Regions from separate parts of the Homo sapiens genome. Here region 1 is linked to region 2. The links come from fine-mapping of genetic effects on plasma protein levels. A gene starts in region 2. The other region holds a variant in brackets. All regions are shown on one strand. Distances are between the middles of the regions.

The links. A credible set is the group of variants that fine-mapping cannot tell apart. PIP is the posterior inclusion probability: the model's chance that the variant is causal. Protein levels are from antibody-based Olink assays in UK Biobank. Linkage for the fine-mapping came from a reference panel and not from the study's own genotypes, which makes the PIPs less certain.
Region 1: its variant is the best candidate, but not a certain one, in a credible set for the plasma level of the SNX9 protein (UK Biobank, PIP 0.62).

The regions. Positions count from the first base shown.
Region 1 is chr6:157,666,741-157,677,631 of GRCh38, reverse strand. ZDHHC14 (zDHHC palmitoyltransferase 14) reads right to left here. Exons shown (of 9, transcript NM_024630.3): 9 at 1-4,908. The coding sequence ends at 4,510. Among named protein-coding and RNA genes, the nearest start is that of MIR3692, 140 kb to the right of the region's middle. RefSeq lists enhancers at 7,052-7,657, 7,658-8,265. The variant G/C (reference allele first, on the strand shown) is at 6,016.
Region 2 is chr6:157,815,906-157,826,469 of GRCh38, reverse strand. SNX9 (sorting nexin 9) reads right to left here and starts at 3,224. Exons shown (of 18, transcript NM_016224.5): 1 at 3,024-3,224. The coding sequence starts at 3,035. RefSeq lists an enhancer at 2,396-2,445 and a silencer at 3,096-3,415.

The sequences.
Region 1 (10,891 bases), 150 kb after region 2:
TTTTCAATCCATTCTGTGTGTAATTCCTGGGGTTTATGAGATCAAAAAATAACTCCAGTTGTGGCTATTTATCTAGTTTTGTGGCAGCTGCAAATTCGGTTGCTCCAGAAACCATCTAATCTTCAATCTCCCAACTACTTTTAATGGCTGGATTAATGGACTAACACCTTACATGTGAAAATCCATCTTGGCTCTATTATCAGGACCATGGACAATGGGCAGATGGACAGAGGATTTACTGATTTACAAACTATTACCATCTTTGACATTTATTTGAAAAAAAAAAAGACGCTTCAGATCGTTTAATATTTCAATGATAACTTAGTTTTATGAGAGAGAGAGACGTTTTAAGGGAACAAATGAGAGGCAGTTTTTTTTTTTTTTTTTTTTTAAATGAGGTACCTTGGAAAATAGCATACAACTCCACATGCAGACCTCCAAAATAGGTGGAGGGGACCAAGAGGAATAGGAATTCATTTGAAAGTCTCTCTCTTTTGGACAAGAATATGCTAGACTCCCACAGCTCATGTGTACTTGATAGAAAATGTAAACATCAATTTGATTTCGGCTCAGCTTCAAAACAGTAGTAAGGCATCAATTAGAAAAGAGTATTTAATATTTGTTCTCCTTTATTCTTTTCTTACCTGGTCAAGAACTAAATGAACTCAATGTATTCTTGTGGATGGATGAAGGGCAGCTCCTTCTGGGAAGATTCCTTATAATATCAACGCAAACCCCGATCCCTTCTGGTGAACTTAAGACCCTAAGCCGAGGCTGAGAAGCAGTTGGTTCCTGGCATGAAGAGGATGGTTGTAGGCTGAGGTCTGAAGGGAGAAGTCAGGTTACAGAGAAGCGTTTGCTGCAGGGTAGTCAGGTGGGCAGAGACCTGAGACCCTTGGGGAGTAGCCCGCCAGGCTGTGCCCTTCAAAGTCTCTGACCAGTTCTGGTTCCAGCATTTTCTGGGCGATGCCATCAGAAGCCCCTGTGTCAAGGACACCTACTGCCAATTTTGGCAAGTTCATTTTTCTTGCTGTTGAGTCAGACAAGAAGGCCTAGGCCCAGGAGGTGAAGAGCTTAGGGGTTTTCAAAGCCACAGAAGGCCTGGCCCATCAGGTCTCCGCAGGAACATGGCTCATAAAATGGGTTTGCTCCTCACTTGGAACCACAGCTGGCAATCCTAGACAGAGCCGGTGAAGGCCGCAGTAAGCTGGGGGGTGGCGTGGAACTCTGCAAAGACTCCTCCCTTGTGCCATTCTGGGCCAGAACAGAGATTTCGCATTTTGCTGGCTTAGGGTGGGGACATGGCATTGTCCTCACAGGCTGAAATCATCACATTTGAAAGCTGGAACGAGCATCTTTTGGTTGGGCATAACGCAACTGCTGGGCCAATTTCTGCAGAACGGAGTGACAGGTCACTGTGCCCTCCTGGATGCAGTCTGTCTGCCACCTTCCTGCAGCATCCCCCTGCTTCCTGGGGCCCTCCCGGATGCAGGCTTTGTGCCGCCTTCCTGCAGCATCCCCACTTCCTGGGGCCCTCCTGGATGCAGGCTGTCTGCCACCTTCCTGCAGCATCCGCCTGCTTCCTGGGGACCAGGGCACTCACGCTCAGTTCAGCCTTCAAGTGCCGGGAAGCCTGTGGTTCCCTGGAGCACTCCTGGGAGAACGAACGCAGATGAATTTTTAAACAGCAGAATGAGTGTGTGTTTGTGTGTGTTTGATAATGGTCCAAGCTTTAATAGCATGGTAAAATATTTATTTTACTTTTTATAGCTAGCATGTAATCAATCTCTAACACACTGAAAGAAGTTAGAAACACCAACGTCTACTCAGCCACAGCTAGAAGGAACCATTCAACATTTATAAACATAAGTATTTATATTTATGTACATGTCACATATATGTTCGTGGGAAATGCAGAGCCATCACCTCGCCAGGTGAGCTGCCCCTCCGACCATCCCTCCTGACAAACAGAAGTGGGCGCCCCAGGGGGCATCATCGCTCATTCCTCTGATGCTGGGTTTCTTTTTCAAGCCACAGAGGACAGGGCTGTGGGCTTCTCTCTGGTTTTGGTTTTTAAGACATTAATTATCTAGCAAATTGGCCCATTCAAGTTAATCTCTCTCTTGACCCTGAATAGCCTTGATTCACTTCACCAAAATTCCCAGTCCCCTATTGGATAAATGATGCCAAGTGTGTGCCAGGGACAGGGTTGGAGGTGGGGAAATTGATAATAAATATTAAGTAAATATCCATTATGTGAAGACAAGTGAGTCGTGATCCTGGCTTCTGGGAATTTTTCACAGTGAGGTGGGAAGAAGGGCTGGTCACAGGAGAGTGGCAACCACTGAGTTAGGAAATGTTAGAAGCGGGAGGCCTCTGAAGACCATGATCTTGCTTTCCAGGGGAATGAGCTGAGAATGGACTGGGCCACACGTGGGACCGGAGTGAGGGCTAAGCCGGATTCGCGGTCACCCATGGAGCACCGTTCTCATCAGGGCCAACTCCTTCCTGGGGCCTCTGGGGAGCAGGTGGAAGAAAGCAAGGAGCAGAGACGGTTTGGGAAGTTGTGGAAGCTCCTTTGTGGGGCTGTCACTTTGGGCTCACAGGTAGCGTGGACAAGGAGAATCCCTGTGAGTTGGTGCCTGTGAGCGTGTGCGGTTGTGTAAGGAGGGCACTGCCCCATGAATTACACATTGCAGGTGGGTACAAGTAGTTAGGTGGTTCAGAAAATCAAAAATGGCTACATAGAATGGACCTATTCCATTTTCTATACGTGCATGCAGCATGACAATAAAGATGGCTCGAAGACATCACAGTGCAAGAACTCTGCAGGCCCTTTCAGCATGAATTATTTTGTGACCTGTGAATTGCCTTCATTCCAAATAAAACTTGTGTGCTTTTCTTTTTCCTATCTTCTTTTCTTTTATATAAAATGGCAACTCTTTCTCAGGAGTAATAGCCTTTTTCCATAAATGCAAATCACTTGGGTTACTTGTATCATTGGTCAATGTGTCTTGTCTTTCATATGGTTATAAGGAGCAAGGCCATGGCTTTGAACTTGAGTAGCTTTAGCTGTTAGATTTATGGTCTGGAAAGAAGCCAGGAGAGGAGTTGCTGTGTCCCCTGTGGCTGCCCCCATAGTGACACACTCCCTAAGTCCAGAGCCAGTTCGTTCCCTTCTAGGTGACCAATGAAAGTGAACAAAGTGGTCATTTTCTTAATTTCATTCTGATCAGTGTCTAGGAAGGATGATGACCTACATGATCTCAGCTTAGACTGTAAGCCGATTTCTCCTCCTCATTTTCTGATACCTTTACTAGGACCTCAAGTTGCACTTCTGGGATTGAGTGACACGTTAACACAGAAGGAAGCCCAGAAGACGCCCGACAGAACCTTCTCCCTGAGCGTCCCCTCCCCTCTCCCTACTTCCGATCAACTGTTGCACGGCAAACTGCAAACGTAGAGCAAATTCCACTAAGATGGTGTCAAAAAGAGATAATTAAAGAAAATAAATGATGGAAAACTTGCCTCTTATCTAAGAAATTATTCTATAAATATCTCCCAGTTCAAAGATTTGACTTTTGGTTGTCTGGGGACCATTCCTCGCTAGGGACATTTCAAGAAAAACTCTCCCCATCTGGATGACTTTGTTTTCATTTATGCTATTAAGGATAACCGTACGCAGATCCAAAATAACAGAGGACGTCATTTTATTGGCTGTCCACGGGAAGTTTCATCACACACGGAGGTGAAGACTGTGGGGGTTGTGGCACACAATATCTCAACACGAGACCTCATCGAGCGGCCAAACAGAAGGTGAAGTGACACCCGACACGACGGAACCCCAGCCGCCCTCTGCAGCCCCGGTGCCACCTCTCCACAGACGCCTCAGCCCAGTAAGCTGAGTGATGACACTGTCCATTAGTCTCAGTTCGTTGCACTGTCTTCCAACAAAACAGCACTTGAAAATTCACAAAATTAAAAAAAGAAAAAGAAAGCAGCACTTCCTTGGAAATAGCAACACCACTGTAACACAGACGGCAGCGTGGCATGCAGATCCACACCTGGTCGGTTTTTTCCCTTTAGGATTTTTTTTTTTTTTAATTAACAAATGGAATGGCAGGTCTGTTTCAAATATTAGTAGCATAACACATAAGTGCAATTGCAGTCTGGCCACAAGCGTCAGAAGCCTTCCGTGTGTCTGTCACAAGGGCGGGCAGACACACTCCGATTCCACCCCTGGAGGGTCACCAAAAGAAAGCAGCCACTTCTCTATTTCCATTGTTGTCAAAGCACTCAGGTTGGGGAAGAAAATTCAAATGAAACCAAGCTCTCAGCATCCGGGGCCAGCCACCCTGTGCCATCCTAAGTGGTCTCTGTACCCCAGACCTGGGGCTGTCATCTCCACCGTGGCATTGGCTGGGAAAGTCGCTGTGGGACACACCCCTCCGCTCACTCCTGCTGCCCATGGAGGAGCCTCTGGTGTCCCCCGGCCTGGGGCCATGTGGGTCACACGGAGCTGAGCTTCACCAGGCCGCGCACAGAGTCCTCATGCAGGGAGTCCTGGCTGGCCAGGCCCAGCACGTGCATGGTGCGGCTGTGCGCCAGGGGGCTGCCCGCCGCCAGTAGCCTGGGGGGCGAGGGCGCCTCATCGGGCGTCAGGAACTGGTGGCCCATGTGCTCATCTTTCCGGGGCATCACGTCCGCGAGCGTGGCCTCGGCGAGGTTGGGCATGGAGGCGGGCGGTGTGGGCGGGCCCAGTGTGAGGCTGGCGCAGGGCGTGCCCAGGCCAGGCTTCCCGGGCAGGTGCAGCTCGTCGCTGGTGAGGCTGGGCTCGCTCTGCAGCAGGGGCGTGGCTGCAGCCTGCAAAACGAATTTGGTGCTCTGAATGCACTGGTCTTGGTCGCACTGGAGAGCGGGAGGCGCCAGCAAAGAGAAGGTGGAGAGGAGGGGGCAGAGGTGGGGAGGGACAGGGATGGGGACAGGGCACGGGCGGGGAGGGTGGGGTGCGAGAAGAGAGAAACCGTTAGTGACACCTCAGTCAGCCAGGCAGGGAGCGCCTACAGTGGTCCAGGTGCATTGGGAGAGACACCCAGCGCCTGGTGCTGCAATTGCCTCTGCTCAAATGAAGTCACCACGGGTGCCCAGTCATAACATGCAGCCACTGGTTATGAAGCCAGTGGTCTTGGTTCCCAATTTAAAGGACATAATTAAAAAAATCTCTTGGACAGAGTCACAGGCCATCTACAGCAGTGGGTGGCTGTTTCTTGTATGCTGAAAACCATTTTTTAAACCACATTGTTTTAAAAATACAGGAGTTGTACACCCATGTTCATAGCAATGTTATTGATAGTAAGTCAAAAGTCAAAAGTGACTCAAGTGTCCACTGATGGATGACAGCAGGGACAAGGTGCGGTGTAGACACACAGTGTTACTGATTCAGCCTTAAAAAGGAAGTGCATTCGGACACATCCACGAGATGGGTGGACCTTGAGGAAAGCATGCTAAGTGAAACAAGCCAGTCACAAAAAGACGAATAACTGTGTGATTCCACTCAAACAAGGTCCCTGGAGGGTCATGTTCTTAGAGAGAAGGAAGAATGGTGGCTGCTGGGGCGGGAGGAAGAGGGAGCTGGTGTTTAAGGCATGCAGAGTTCCAGCCATGGAAGATGAAGAAGCCCTGGAGATGGGTGGTAGTGGTGGTTGCAGAACAACATCAACGGACTTAATACTACTGAACTTATACTTACAAATGGTTAAAGTGGCAAATATTATGCCATGTCTATTTTACCACCAAAAAAAGAAAAGACTGTTTGGTAAAAGCCTAGAATTCCCCACTGCTAAATTTCCAACAGCTTCAAGAGCCATTCCCGAAGCCTCTGTGGTCTGAGAATGCCCACGTTTGAGAAGACGTTTCCTATTCTTCCACGCGTTCTTAAGTCACATGATATCTGCCTCGTGTCCTCTGTTTCCCTTCGCTCACTGGGCAAAGAAGATAGTGTAAGCACATTTCCAG[G/C]CTATGCGACAGGCACCCCTGATAGCTCCGCAAACCCTCTCCTTGAACTATGGGCAAGTTTCAGAACAGCTAGAAGAGACTTAACAGGACTTATAAATCTTCAACTTGAGCCTGTGCGGTACCTTCTCAGTGAGATTCAGGAGCAGTGTTTTGATGGGAAGGAGGAACAGACATGGATATTAGGTGAGCAAATCGGGACTCTGTGCTCAAGCTATAAAGTGGCTGCTCCACTTCACTTCTGCAGGAGTTCTTAGAATGAGCCTGTTCCCCTCTTCACAAATGAAGACCCTGGGGCACAGATGGGTTGGACAGCTCGATCAAGACCTTACAGATGAAAGTAAGGGATGGATCTAGGATTTGGAGCTGGGGTAGACCTCTTTCCACTATTCCACATTGGACACAGCAGATGCTTAATAAATGTTATTTGGCTTATTATCTCCTCCTCTTTATCAGAAGGCTAGAGTTACTGAAGAACCACTCACCAATGGCTTTGTGATTTAGGTGCTCCGACCTCTTCCTGATAAGAGACTCGCACAGAGCTGCCATTGCTCATACCCCTGCAGCCACAGAGCGGTGCAGAGCCAACATGCACAACGCAGCCTTGAGGGGAGGGAGGAAGTTCACCCAAAGCTGCTGATCCTAAGGCACTTATTTCATGCAGTGCACACTTCCTTCCCAGCCTCATGGGTTTCTTTCTAAAATCACAAGTAGTAGGCCACCCTGAGCCACCCTCCAGCCTAGAAGAGAAGGTTGAGGGGCTGCAGTCTTCAAGAATCTGCAGGCTTTAGATGCTCAAAGATTAGGTCCTAGGCAAGAGTAAAGTTCATAGTGGAGCTATGAAGAGGGCAAGCAAGTCTCACGAAGATCCTTGCTTTTCTGTGGCTTTAGCCTGGACAGTGCAATTGCAAAACACTGAGAAGCTGGGGAAGGCTTGGGAAAGAAAGGTGCCAAAGTGCGGGGGAGGGGAGGGGAGTAGGGTTATTTGGAGGAAAGGAAAGGCCATTAGAAACTACTTGGAAGGCGGCCGGGCACAGTGGCTCATGCCTATAATCCCAGCACTTTGGGGGGCTAAGGCAGGCAGGATCACCTGAGCTCAGGAGTTCGAGACCAGCTTGGGCAACATGGCAAAACCTCATCTCTACAAAAAATACAAAAATTAGCTGGGCATGGTGGCACACAAATGTAATCCCAGCTTCTCAGGAGGCTGAGGTAGGAGAATCATTTGAGCCCAGAAGGCAGAGGTTCCAGTGAGCTGAGATCACGCCACTGTACTCCAGCCTGGGCGACAGAGCAAGACCTTGTCTCTAAATAAATAAATAAATAAAAAGTACTTGGAAGGGGCTGACTGTGAAGCGTTAACAATCCTTTCCACTCATCACCACAATCATTTGTGCCACGGCGGTGCTTCTCCAAGCTGTCAGGTGGGCAACAGAGTAGCTTTCTCTGCTCTTGCAGGGAATTTCAGCTCAGGGTGCAGGTCCCTTCCGGTGGGGGCTACTGAGCAGGCTGCAGACAGCTGTGGCCTGTGTAGGCTGCGGGCGCTCTCCCATGCTGTCAGCTCTGCTCAGGACATGGGCTCAGTCTTGACAGGGCAGAGGCAGAGGCAGAGCAGCCTCATTGATTAAACATTCGTCTTCTGGAAACTATACCAGGGTTTGGACGGACTGTGCTTTGCAAAGAATGTTTTATGAACATCACCGTTTCGTATTCTTACTGACAGAGGCAGCTGAGCCGCAGCGGCACTCCCATTTCCTGTAACTCCGCACAGCCTCCAGCAGGCCGGGCCTGGGAATGAGCCCAGGGCGGAGCTGCCGCTTCAGAGAGCTCAGCTGGCAAGCCAGCGCCCTTGCTGGACCAAGGCATCTTGTTTTCAAGCTTCCCCTCTGGAGCCCTCACTCATCCTAATGCTTTCTGTCCACACAATACCCCCTGGCTCTAAGGAACAAGGAAATGGCAAATTAGATTTGCTTGTCTCTGTTGACCTGAAGAAAGCCTTCTCTACTGAAGACTAATTGGCAAATTCTGTTTTAGGGTTCAGCCCAAGTACTTCTGACTGACTCTCACAGACTCACAGAAAAATATGTTCGAGGGTGGAGCTGGAGGAGACAGTCAAGGTCACACAGTAGGAGCCTGAGGGCAGAGGCGGGCTCCTCTCCTTCCAACCCTCTCTGTCTCTTTCACCTTCCCTGTGGGAAGAGGTGGGCTCGCCTCAACCCTCTGTTTCTTTCAACTTTCCTCTCTGGGGAGAGGTGGGCTCTCCTCCACTCTCTGTCTTCCCCCCCCACCACCCCTCTCTTGTGCATTCTTCTACTTTGCACTACTCCATCAGCTGCTGGCCCTTTTCCTCTCCCCTGATCACCTCTCTGCCACCTAAGCCTGCAAAGAGCTCCTGCACACCCACGAGAACCTTCTCGGATAAGGTGGCTGTCGGCAGTGGTCGGTTAAGCTCCTGAGAGACTGTGTTCCCTGTTGGGGTTGATGCAGAGTTGGGTGCACCTTCGGAGACTTCCATTTGCAAACATCCCTTTGCTAACTTAAAGATAACAGCCCTAGAGGTGGCTTTACTGGGAAGCTAATGATGCTTCAGGCTCCTTTACTTACACAGCCTCTTTCCAAGGCCTCGTTCTCTGCATATTGTTTGTTTTTTCTTAAAGGAGGTCTCCCATGGCATGGTTCAGACCACTCCAAACCTGGCCCACTCCAGCACATACCTACTGGTGCTTTGCCATGCTGTACCTACGACTTGTTAAGAACTGTAGCAAACACTGTGTGGGCCTCACTGGCCAGGACCTTGTTGGAAATGCTCTTGAGTTTGTCAAGGGTGAAGCTTAAGGACTTGAAGAAGGTGTGAAATAATATTTGTGAAAGAAGAAGTTTAGCCTAAGCCATTTAATTTTTGTTTTGTTTTGTTTTTTTTGAGATGGAGTCTCACTCTGTCACCCAGGCTGGAGTGCAGTGGCACGATCTTGGCTCACTGCAGCCTCTGCCTCCTGGGTTCAAACAATTCTCCTACCTCAGCCTCCTGAGTAGCTGGGACTACAGGCACGCACCACCATGCCTGGCTAATTTTTGTATTTTTTTTTTTTTTTTTTTTAGTGGAGATGGGGGTTTTACTGTGTTGGCCAGGCTGGTCTCAAACTCCTGACCTCAAGTGATCTGCCTTCCTCGGCCTCCCAAAGTGCTGGGATTACAGGTCTGAGCCACCGTGCCTAGCCCGTAAGCCATTTAATTTAAAAAATCTATATAGAAGTCACTCAGAAATGTTTTCCAAATGACTCTTTGGAACCCTGACTTATCTGATGATAAGCACCTCTTCTACACAGATTTGTTTAAACATCTTAAAAGATGACTGTCTATCTAAGTCTAGCTATGGGTGTTTCCCCTGATAGAGGGACTGCTTTTGTAGTAATAATGAACCTACTCTCTGTGCCCTCCCCAGCTTTCCTGCTGGGATGACAGCAGGGGGCAGGGGCACTGGCATCAGGCACCTAAGTATCTAAGTCCTGCGTGTAGTTCACAGCTTTGAAAACACTTTGCCACATTCAAACTGATTTCCATTTAGAAGGCAAATCTCAGTTGGGGCACACGGGGACCAGGCTCTGTTCTGCAGGGTGTCACCCATCTAAATCTCCTGTTGGCTCAGAAGAGAGCACTGGCGTGGACAGAGCAGAGTTTTGTCAGATTCCAACCAAGGGTAGTGCAATGACTCTACTGACTGGAATTTACAATTCTCATTAAACGCTCTCAAAACGTCGCCTGTTTTGAACATATGCTTCTTAGAAAAAACTTAGATATCAAATGACTCAGGGATACCTGATTTTTTTAAAAGAGCTTTTCCTAATTTTCCACTCTGCCAGAATTCCAAGGGCGATGGGTTCATAAACCTTCATGGCTGTGATTCTCATTTGAGAAAGTCATGGGGGAAAATGGCCAGTATTTTCAGGGTTACTGTGGAGATGGCCATGACAAATATTCTTACACTTCCCTTTTTTTTTTTTTAAACCTTTGCTTCTAATTCTTATTTGCCCATTTCTTGTTGACTTTTCTACTTAACTTTCTTGCTCTCTGGACTCACCAACTCTCTTCCCCTCTATCCTTCTTCCCCATTGATTTCTCTCCCACTTCTCCTTTTTCCGTCTTCTCTTTTTCTTCTTTGTTTCTTCCTTTCTACCTCTCTCTTTTTTACTTTGAACCCTTTTCCCTCCGCTACCCAGCCTTCCTGGCTTTTCATTTGAGGACCCTTTTACCTTCCACCAGTAGAGGGAGACATCACCGCTCGCTTTTTCTCTCTTACAATTTGGTGGCTGTGCATACATCCCGGCTAACACCAAGAAGCCGTTGGTTATGTTTGAATTGATCTAACCAGTTATATAATCCTAAGGAAAAACAGCTGACCACTTAGATATCTGACAGTGATAGTCCATCTACTCTGAACAGAAAACTGAGATACTCATGTTTTTATTCCAAAACAACCTTTTAAAAGTTCATATGTATCAAATATTAGGTTGAATCATATGACATTACCAATTTTTAAGGTCAAAAATTGGCCGAATGCTGGATACTAATAGAATAGAATTTTGATTTCTTGTAAGAGTGTCTATGAAAAGACCTTTCTGCTGGCAGCATAAAAATCCCACTGTCTGGAGTGCTGGAGCTTTTGCTGTCATTGCAGTAAGTCACTGTGACAGCTGATTTACTGCCCAAATGAAGTGTCGGCATGTAACTTGCAAAGAAGTTTATGGCTTCAGATGTCTGGAAGTCATACACATTAGCACTTAATGTTACAATTTAAAAATGCCATAGAGATCATTCCTGTTTCTGCAGATTCTCAAATAAAATTGCTCATGTAGGAATACATTTTATTTTACCCTAGCTG
Region 2 (10,564 bases):
GGAGTGCAGTGGCGCAAAATCGGCTCACTGCAAGTTCTGCCTCCCGGGTTCACGCTATTCTCCTGCCTCAGCCTCCCGAGTAGCTGGGACTACAGGCGCCCGCCACCACGCCCAGCTAATTTTTTTTGTATTTTTAGTATAGATGGAGTTTCACCGTGTTAGCCAGGATGGTCTCGATCTCCCGACCTCGTGATCCGCCCGCCTCGGCCTCCCAAAGTGCTAGGATTACAGGCGTGAGACGGCGCCCGACCCTGATTAACTTTCTTTAGCAGTGAAGGACTGTCAAACTAAAGTTCTTCTTCTAAAAGATAATTTCCTTTTTTATTGTAAAATATAGTAGTGGAGTTTTTAAAAATCCCAATAGTTCAGTGATAACCACATCCTTAATACGTAAGAACAAACAAGAAAATTGTATCTGAAGATACTATAGCCAAGTCTCTGATAAATTCAAAGGGAAATCGACATCCCTTAAAATATCCAGATACTGAATTTACTTTTCATCAGTTAATACTTATAGCAACAGCCTGAGTGCCACTGGAGCCTACATTTTTATTAAAAGTTAGTCATTACTACTAAGCACATTCTCCCCACCCCTTGAAGAAGACAAAGAAAAAACACAACTACTCAGGTGTGGGGAAGGAGTGTGCATATGGGGGAAGGGAGGAAAGCACCAACTTGACTCTCTGGGAACAATTAAAAAATGAGACTTTGGTTTGACACAAGAATCACCAGCATGTCAGAAAACAAAGGAAGGGTCTTCTTTTAATAACTGCTTCGTTGCTCTTCTTTTTCTTAAAATGGAAATGGTTTGTCACAATGTAAACATGGAAATGAGCACCATGTGGAACAGTGATTAGGCAGCCGAAAGAAACTAACAGAACTACTGGAATTTGCCTTTGGAGTGGTGTAGATAACGAAGTAGGAAGTCCTTACGCATGCTTTAAGGCTCGTGTTTAATCAAAGACACATGCAATTCGAGATTAATATACAAGAACCACTTTTCGATTTTTTGGAAAAAAATTAAGTTCAGGATTAACTATGAAATAAAAATTTCACTATATATACCTGCACTAGTTGCTAAACTGCATTCCACTTAAAGGACAGTACAGATAACATGCCTCAGTAGACCAGAGTGTAAAAACACACTGACCACCACTAGACAGATCTCTATGTCATAAACCGTCTTCTCTTTTTTCAAACGGAGTCTCGTCTTTTCTTTTTTCAAACGGAGTCTCGCTCTGTCGCCCAGGCTGGAGTGCAGTGGCGCGATCTCGGATCACTGCAACCTCCGCCTCCCGGGTTCAAGCGATTCTCCTGCCTCAGCCTCCAGAGCAGCTGGGGCTACAGGCGCGCGCCACCACGCCCAGCTAATTTCTGTATTTTTAGTAGAGACAGGGTTTCACCATATTGGCCAGGCTTGTCTCGAGCTCCCGACCTCAGGTGAACCACCCACCGCGGCCTCCCAAAGTGCTGGAATTACAGGTGGGAGTGAGCCACCGCGCCCGGCCTATAAACCGCTTTTAAGGTTGCAAGATGAGCATGTACTAGGATGTGTAACTGGTAATTTCTGGAATGTCTGGCAACAAACCTCAAAATCAAATTTCCTTAGAAATCCTTGGCCTAAGTTTTATTTTTAAAAAGGTCAACACAAAATTAATACGTTAAAAAGGTGGCAAGTTCTATCGCATTAATAAAACCAAAGCACAGCACAGGCAATAATATATTAACAAGAAGGTAATTATTTCAGTAACAGCAGCAACAGGTTCCCTGGAGGAGAATCCCCATTTCTCTACAAACGCTGCACCTAGATGGATTCAGAGCACAAAATTTACCACAGCACAACATCTAGCAGACCGAAGTCAAGCAATGCTGATCTTTCAAAGAGATTTCACATTTCTTACCATTTTCTACCTTAACACTCCACAAAAAAAGCAAACACCTATCGAAAAATAAAAAATAACGTTTCTAGCAACCCAAAAGTAGCTCAGAGATCTCAAAAACAAATAGACAAAGGGGTGCTGATGCTAACAAAGTGACATTACAAAAACTAAGTGCAAAAGTAAACCCACTCCTCACAGTGTATCACAGATCAGTTAATGGCTCAGGTATAGAGCCTCCTCCCCCAGGTCCTCCCTTCCGTGACCGTGACTTCCCCAGTGGCTATTCTACATCAAGTAACTACTGAAAACGCCCAAGGAAAAGGAGCGGGGGAGGGTGGCTTTTGAAAATTCAGGTAGCCAAGAGTGACTGCTAATTTCATAAACAATAACGTAAAACAAGCAAACCACCGCTCCTAGCCAATGACGAAGCAGGAGTCAAAGTTCCACCACGTAATTCGGGCCTGGGCCTTTTTTCAGGCAAACACGTAATCGAAAGCACAGTCATTTCCCTCTTGATATTTTATTCATGCCGGCAATGCCATTCACAATGAAAAGGTAGCAAAACAAAAGAAAAAAATAACAGCAGCGAAGGCAAAGGGGCGCGGGGCGTCCCAGCCTCGGTCCCTCCCCGGCCGCGAGCCCCCGCAGGCCGGGACGGGAAGCGCCGCGTCCTCTCCGCCGAGGTCTCGACCCCCACCCGCCCCGCGGGGGCGAGGGTCCCCCAGGCGGCAGCGGGAGGGGACGTGGGGGCGGCGGGGACGCCGGACGCCACAGAGCGCCAGTCGCCTCGGGGGCCTCCCCGGGCTGCGGGAAGTTTCCGTCCCGCGGCCCCTCCCGGCGAGCCCGCCGCAGCCCACGCTCAGGTGCAAACTTCCCAAACCTCGCTGCGCCCGGGGTCCCAACCCGCGCCCAGACCCGACGCCGTCCCCCGGTGCGATCCTGGTGGTCTGTCTGCACTGCCCGCCGCACCCATGCCCAGAAGGGACTGGCTGGGCCGCGGACCCGCCCGGGGACTCCACCGAGGAAGCGGAGTGGCCCCTCGACCACCCCTGGCCCCGACCCTCCCCGCGGCCCCGGCCCCGACCCTCTCCGCGCCGCCCCGGGCCTGAGCGACCGGCCCGGCCTGCGCCGCGCGCCCCTCACCTTGGTGGCCATGGCGGGCGGGTCCCCCGGCCCGGGACGGCCGGCTCGTCTCCCGCGCCGCGGATGGTGATTCTGAGCCGCGCAGGCAAAGGCAAGGGCGAGGGCGGCGGCTCCGGCTGGGCCCCGGCGCGGCGGCCGCTCCTCCGCCTCGGCCCCGAGTCTCGACGCTCAGGCCCAGCCGCTGGGCGCTCGGCTACTCCCGCGCCGCACGCTCCTGCAGTTCCTGAAAGTCCCCGGCTGCGCGGCCCCCGCCCCTGTCGGCCGAGCCTCCCATTTACCGCGGCGCGCGCGACGCCCGCCGGAAGCGCGCCCTGGGCCCTCGGCCGCGGCCCGGCCTCCTCGCCTCCTGGCCGCCCCCGCGCCGCGCCGCCGCCCCGGGCAGTCACCGCCGCCGCCGCCGCCGCCGCCCCCGGGCGCCCTTGGTCGAGGCTGGGAGCGGCGTCCCGCGCAGCGGCGGGGTCCGGACGGGCGCCCCAGGCCATGGCCCGCAACCCTGCGTGGCCGCCCCAGGGGAAGCGATCCGCGGCCCACAGAGCCGCTCGGGGTAGCCGAACCCCGACTCCGGTTCACGCTCGGCCGGCGCCGCACGCCGTGGCTCGGCGCTTTCCGTGCATGAGGCGGGAGGGGGCGGCAGGAACTCTCGACGCCCCGGGCAGACAGGAGCCCCGCAACCCCGCTGTCTTTGCCCCACGCCTGGGGTGTTGCGGGGTCGCCGTGCCCTTGGCCGAGTACCCTGAGTACCACATAAACAGCTGGGAAGGAGCGGAGCGATGGCTTCCTGGGCCTCTTCCTCCTGCCCGGAGGCTCCCTCAGGCCGGGGTCCTGGCTTGAAGCCCCTGGGACGGGACGGTGGGGGGTTTCGTTCTGTGACGCCCCGTTAACCTCATTCTGGAATCTTGATAAGCTTAAAAATACCGGAGGGCCCGAGAGGTTTGGGGGACAACAGGCTCTCTGAAGTGGAAACGAGGTCTCTAAAATTTTCCATCTTTCTGTCAGTGTTTCTTTCCAGAGTTGGAGATATATATATGGGTGTTATGAATAAACGAATGACTTGAATTGAGCAGCAAGATTTTTCACTCAAGGACAAAACACGACTGGAAGATGTGTCTTAATTGGCATACTAGTGGAGTGCTTTTTTATTATTATGAGGGATATATTTGTAAGAAGAGACAACTATCAAATGTAAATCTCTGGTGTTTAATGTCAAGTTTGTGTCTTCTTAAATACATTCTATTTGACCTGAGATTTCACTAGTTATATTCAATAATGGGGTTTAAAATAGATACGGTATTGCAGAATTTTCTGTGAATTTTTGTGTTTGTTGAGCTCATGGTTAAGCTATAGTCATCATAATATGCATAAATAGTTGTCTTTCTCCGTAAAAAAAAATATTGGGAGGCCAACATTCATTGACGGCCTGCTTGCTGTATACTAGGCTTCCACATCCCCATCTCATTTAATCCTTATAAGAAACATTTGAGAAACTCATTATTGTCCACTGTTTACAAAGAAGAGCGACTCAGGGATCACTTAAATAACTTGCCCATTTGGTAATACTTATTCAAATCGAAAATGACCGTAGCCTTGGACCCAGCAGCCCTCCTGGGAATTTATCCTGTCAAACACTTGTACAAGTGTTCAAAGATGTTCATCAAAGATTGTTCTGTAATAACTCCAACCAGAAAGCAACCTATGTGTTTGTTAACAGGACTGTTTCAGTAAATAAGATACATCCATTCAAACAAAAATACTAGGAAGCCCGTAAGAAAATGATAATATTCTAAGAGGTGTTAAGAAAGATAAAAAGAACATTATGTATGGTACATTTATGTAAAAAAAAAAAAAAAAAGGAAATATGTGACACATTCCTAGAAAATTTCTGAGAAAGATTCGCCAGATCCTGTTGTCAGAGTTTTTGACCATGTGTATATATGACTTCATTTAAAAACAGCAGTTATATTTTAATAAACAATGGAAGAAATAACTTGGCTAAGAGCACACACTAGTATGTGGAAAAGCCAGGATTTGAACTCAGGCAATGTCATAAGTAATGAGTTTTCCATATTCTTTTAAATGTGAAGGCTGGGTACAGCTCTCTCTGCAGCCGTTCAACAATGCATCCCTTGATAGGAAGGTGCAAAGTTAGGGGCACACCTGTGAAGACAGGCCTTTCCACATGCTCATCTGGCAAATCCTATGCAAATAGTCATCCTGGGCACCCAGCACCATGAAAGCAAGAAGACTAGAGACTTCAAGCTTTTCCCACCAGAACAATTTCATAACCCTGGTTTTATTTTTTAGAAGTAATGGTGGAGGGCTAAGGTGGAAGGATTGCTTAAGCCCAGGTGTTCAACACCAGCCTGGGCAACATAGTGAGACCTCATTTCTAGAAGTTTTTTGTTGTTGTTGTTGTTTTAAAAAGAGCAAGACTGTGAAAAACAAATGAAAAAGTACATAAACAGAGATAAACATGGCCGGGCGCTGTGGCTCACGCCTGTAATCCCAGCACTTTGGGAGGCTGCGGCGGGCGGGTCACGAGGTGAAGAGATCGAAACCATCCTGGCCAACATGGTGAAACCCCGTCTCTACTAAAAATACAAAAATTAGCTGGGCATGGTGGCACGCGCCTGTAGTCCCAGCTACTCAGGAGGCTGAGGCAGGAGAATCACTTGAACCCGGAAGGCGGAGGTTGCAGTGGGCCGAGATCGAGCCACTGCACTCCAGCCTGGGCAAGACTCCGACTCAAAAAAAAAAAAAAAAAAAAAGAGATAAACATGTGCACTTTCACAATAAGCCACACCGAAGGGATCTTGAACATAACTAAAATCTTTTTCACATTTTTAGTAATGAATTGGGTAGTATATCTCCAGTAAATACTGCTAAACTTAGGAGTTTTATTTTTATATACGTCAGTCAAAATCAACATTACTTCATGAATGTTATAGAGGAGACCCACTTTCATAGAATATATTTGTATATAGAGAGAGAGACTGGGTCTTGTTCTGTCACCCAGGCTGGAGTGCAGTGGCCCAATCTCGGCTCACTGCAGCCTCCGCCTCCCAGGTTCAAGTGATTCTCCTGCCTCAGCCTCCGCAGTAGCTGGGATTACGGGCACCTGCCACCATGCCTGGCTAAGTTTTTTTTTATTTTTTATTTTTTATTTTTAGTAGAGACAGGGTTTTGCCACGTTGGCCAGGCTGGTCTCAAACTCCTTATCCTAAGTGATCCGTCTGCCTCAGCCTCCCAAAGTGCTGGGATTACAGTCGTGAGCCACTGCACCCGGTGGTGGCGTTTGTCTTCTGCTCCCACTTGATCAACCATGCATATCTCTCTTCTGTCCACCTCCGTCCTTTGAGCGAGCTTCCTTAGAGTTGATTCTCTACGCAGGCCTGCCTTTAGAACCCAGAACCCAGAACCCTGGGCCATGCTAAGTTCAGATTTTCTTCTACAGCATGAACTTCCATTACTCCAGGGGTGAGAACACAATTAGTTAAGCAATTGGATTTGCATTTGCAGACTGCGTTTGGTTATTACTAGATTGCACTTTCAAAAGAAAAAGACCTGGAGGCAGAGCAACAGAGCCACTCTGTTTAGGCTTTGTACTCTAGCTGCTTTTTTTTTTTTTTTTTTTGAATCATGCCACAGGAGGTAAAGTGATTAGGATTCACAGGAAGCTTCGTCCAGCCACACAGCTGGGGGGACAGGAAAATAATGACCACCACCTCTTCCCTGCGTTTGTTCAGTATGGCCAGGTGTTTTTATTCAAAATTAGATTCTCCTTTGGTTTTTAAGAGCTCAGAGCCCAACTAAATGCTTGGTCAACTAATGGGAAACTAGCATGGGAAAGTGCAACTATGGGAACTAATGTGGAACGGAGTGAAAATGTGTGATGGTCACCTAATGTAAGGATCGGAGGATGAGAATAATGTGTAACAATACAGAGTCAGCCTGGGTCTGGCACAAGGGGATACCTCCTCTCACTTTAGGGCATGAATTTAATGAGGTTAAAGAAAACCTTGGGGTGACCTTGAAAATAAACGTGGAAAGGAGTGCAGCTGGTGCCATTCCAATCCTAATAAACGTATGACGTCCTCACCTTGGACTGGATGCTGTTACAGGTGAGGGAGACAAAAGTCCCTGCTCTCTTAGAACTTAACAATCTGTAGAGGGTGGGGGAAGTCAATAAACTACAAATAAATGTCTAATGTGCCAGGTGCTTTTATAAGTGCTCTGAAGAATCTTTATAGGAATAAAGAGAAGCAGGAGAGGTTTTTTCCTATAAGGTTTCCCCTTGGCATTAGACTAGCTGAATGTATGTATGAAAAGTGTATGGTTTTAAAATTATGTTTGTTTTAGTTGGTTAGCTGATTGGTTGGTTTTCATTTTTGTTCCATTTTGACTAAGTCACATTTCTTTCTCCATCGTCTGGGAGACACAGAGCCGTAAACAGTAACGGGACATAGTGTCCAGAACTAGAAATTGAGCAGAAATCTGACTGCTAGGACCTGAGCAGTCCAGGAAGGGACAGTTGGCATGGGCAGAGAGAGACTGGAGGCTAGGGAGGCTGCATGGATGGCAGAGGTGGCAGCAGCAGGCGGTGTTAGGCTGGAACAGGAACCGTTTGCTCAAGGTTCTATACTAGACTGTTTGCTGAGTTTGGGTAGTTCCGACTCCCAGAAGGACTGAGCTGTGAGGTGAGGGCAGCAAGAGAAGATTGGCTCACCAGTTGGCTTCCCAAATGAAGTCCCAGCCTGTAGGATCCCTGGTGTCTCATGAAACTTTGCCCTAGGATATTGTTTTAATTCTTTGACCTGTTAAGGACAGGCTGGCGTGAGTCCTTGGAGACGTACTGGCATTCAGTGATTGGGCACAAAGAAGTAACAGTGGATATAGGACATTTTGCTAGTTCATGTGTCATTGCTCAAGTTACAAACTGTGATGGTTAAAACTGAGTGTCAACTTGATTGGATCGAAAGATGCAAAGTATTGATTCTGGGTGTGTCTGTGAGCCTGTTGACGAAGGAGATTAATATTTGAGTCACTGGGTTGGGGAAGGCAGACCCACCCTTAATCTGGGTGGACACCATCTAATCAGCTGCCAGCACAGCTAGAATATAAAGCAGGCAGAAAAACGTGAAAAGAATAGACTGGCCTAGCCTCCCAGCCTACATCTTTCTCCTGTGTTGGATGCTTCCTGCCTTTGAACATCAGACTTCAAGTTCTTCAGTTTTGGGACTCAGACTGGCTCTCCTAGCTCCTCAGCTTGCAGGTGGCCTATTGTGCGACCTTGTGATCATGTGTGTTAATACTTAAAAAACTCATATATATATGTATATATATATATGTGTGTGTGTGTGTGTGTGTGTTTGTGTATATATCCTATTAGTTCTGTCCCCTCTAGAGAACCCTGACTAATACACAAACTATAGAGAGTTCTTTTTTTTTTTTTTTTTTTTTTTGAGACAGGGTCTCACTTTGTTGCCCAGGCTACAAACCAGTGATGCAATCACAGCTCACTGCAACCTTGACCTCCAGGGCTCAAGTGCTATTTATTTATTTATTTATTTATTTAGAGTCAGAGTCTCCCTCTGTTGCCCAGGCTGGAGTGCAGTGGCACGATCTTGACTCACTGCAACCTCTGCCTCCCGGGTTCAAGCAATTCTCCGACCTCAGCCTCCCAAGTAGCTGGAATTACAGTGCCTGCCACCATGCCCAGCTAATTTTTGTATTTTTAGTACAGATGGGGTTTCACCATATTGGCCAGGCTGGTCTCTTTGGCGAGGCTGGTCTCAAACTCCTGACCTCGTGATCCACTGGTCTCGACCTCCCAACATGCTGGAATTACAGGCGTGAGCCACCACGCCTGGCTCAAGTGCTACTTTTAAAGCTAAAAGCCCCACATAACATGCCAGCACACACTGACACACTCTCATATCCTTGCTTTATGGAAGGCAACTCTAATGACAGTGCTTGCTAAATACAAGTACAGGACATTTGCTGTGACCGCCATGATTTAGAGCCAGACACTGCAAATTACAGCCTCCATCCCTTGTGAGTCCTGTTCTCCTTCCCCAGGGCTTTCATCAGAAAGCCCACCCACTGCTGAGTGCTGAGTGCTGAAGAGATGGCCTTGGTCGTGGCATCAGGCATCCTTGGCTTGAAACTCACTTCTGCTGCTTGTCACCTGTGTGAACTTGAGCAGGTACTTTCATCTTGATCCTCAGTACCAATGTCTGTCTTGTCTGTTCAGGCTGCTATAACAGAATACCATAGACTGGGTGGCTTATTAACGACAAATGTTTATTTCTCACAGTTCTGGAGGCTGAAAAGTCCAACATCAAGGCACCAGCAGATTCAGTGTCTGGTGAGTGCCCCCTGGTTCATGGACAGCCATCTTCTCGCTATGTCCTCACATGGTGGAAGGGTGAACAAGCGCGGTGGGATCTCTTTTATAAGGCATAACTCCAATCATGAGAGCTCTGTCCTCATGACCTGATCACCTCCCAAAGTCCTCACTTCCAAATACCATTACATTAGGGGTTAGGATTTCAACATCTGAATTTAAGGAGGACACAAACATTCAGTCAATAGCATAGCAGTGTTGCCCTGGGTTTGTTCTGAAGAGTCCGTGATTAACTGGAGTAGCAGGAAGTTCTAACAGATCTTAATAGTTATTATAACGATGTGCTGGGCTTCATGGTGGTGGTGGCCAATATCTTCTTGCAGTTCTCAGTTCTGTAACAAATTTCCCAAGATGCTGTTTTCCAATGACTACAGAGTATTGATCACACCCAGTACCTGTATTTGCTCACTCCTGTGGCATTCCTTTCTTCTTTTTCTTTCCAGTCATTCATTTCGTTCCTCAATATCCTCTATCTTTTACCCCACTGTATTTCATTTCAGTCCCTTGGTGTATTTCATCTCTTCTTTTCCATGTCTAGAGAATGTTCCTAACTCTAGTTTCTCAGGATTTTTCCAGGCACATCAGTAACTTTTCTGCTTTTTAAAATCATTAAAGCTTTTGATGAAGTAAGAAAATGTCAAAATGCAAAATATCCTTTTTAGTAAACAAGTGCATAAAGCTCACAATTCCAGTAAATACAAACTCCGCATTAGTTTCAAAACAGGTAACAAGTTTATTGTTATACTCTTTAGAAATTCTAGCTTAATTTAAAAAATATTAAGTAAATGACTGTTTAGAAACACAGATGGTTCTTATAAATAGTTATGATCTACCCGTTACCTCCCGTGTCAATATTTGCATAGCAAAGGGGCGGTTTTCAGGGGGCAATTGTGTGTTCATTGACTGGAGGGATACACACAAGAGCCCTGGCCTGGTGCTTGGCACTCGAGGAGTTTAGGAGGCAGGGGTTCCTCTCATGGCTGGTGTGGTCTATTAGCTGCTGCTTTTTTTTTTATTATTATACTTTAAGTTCTGGGATACATGTGCAGAATGTGCAGGTTTGTTACATAGGTATACACGTGCCATGGTGGTTCGCCGCATCCATCAACCCGTCACCTACATTAGGTATTTCTCCCTC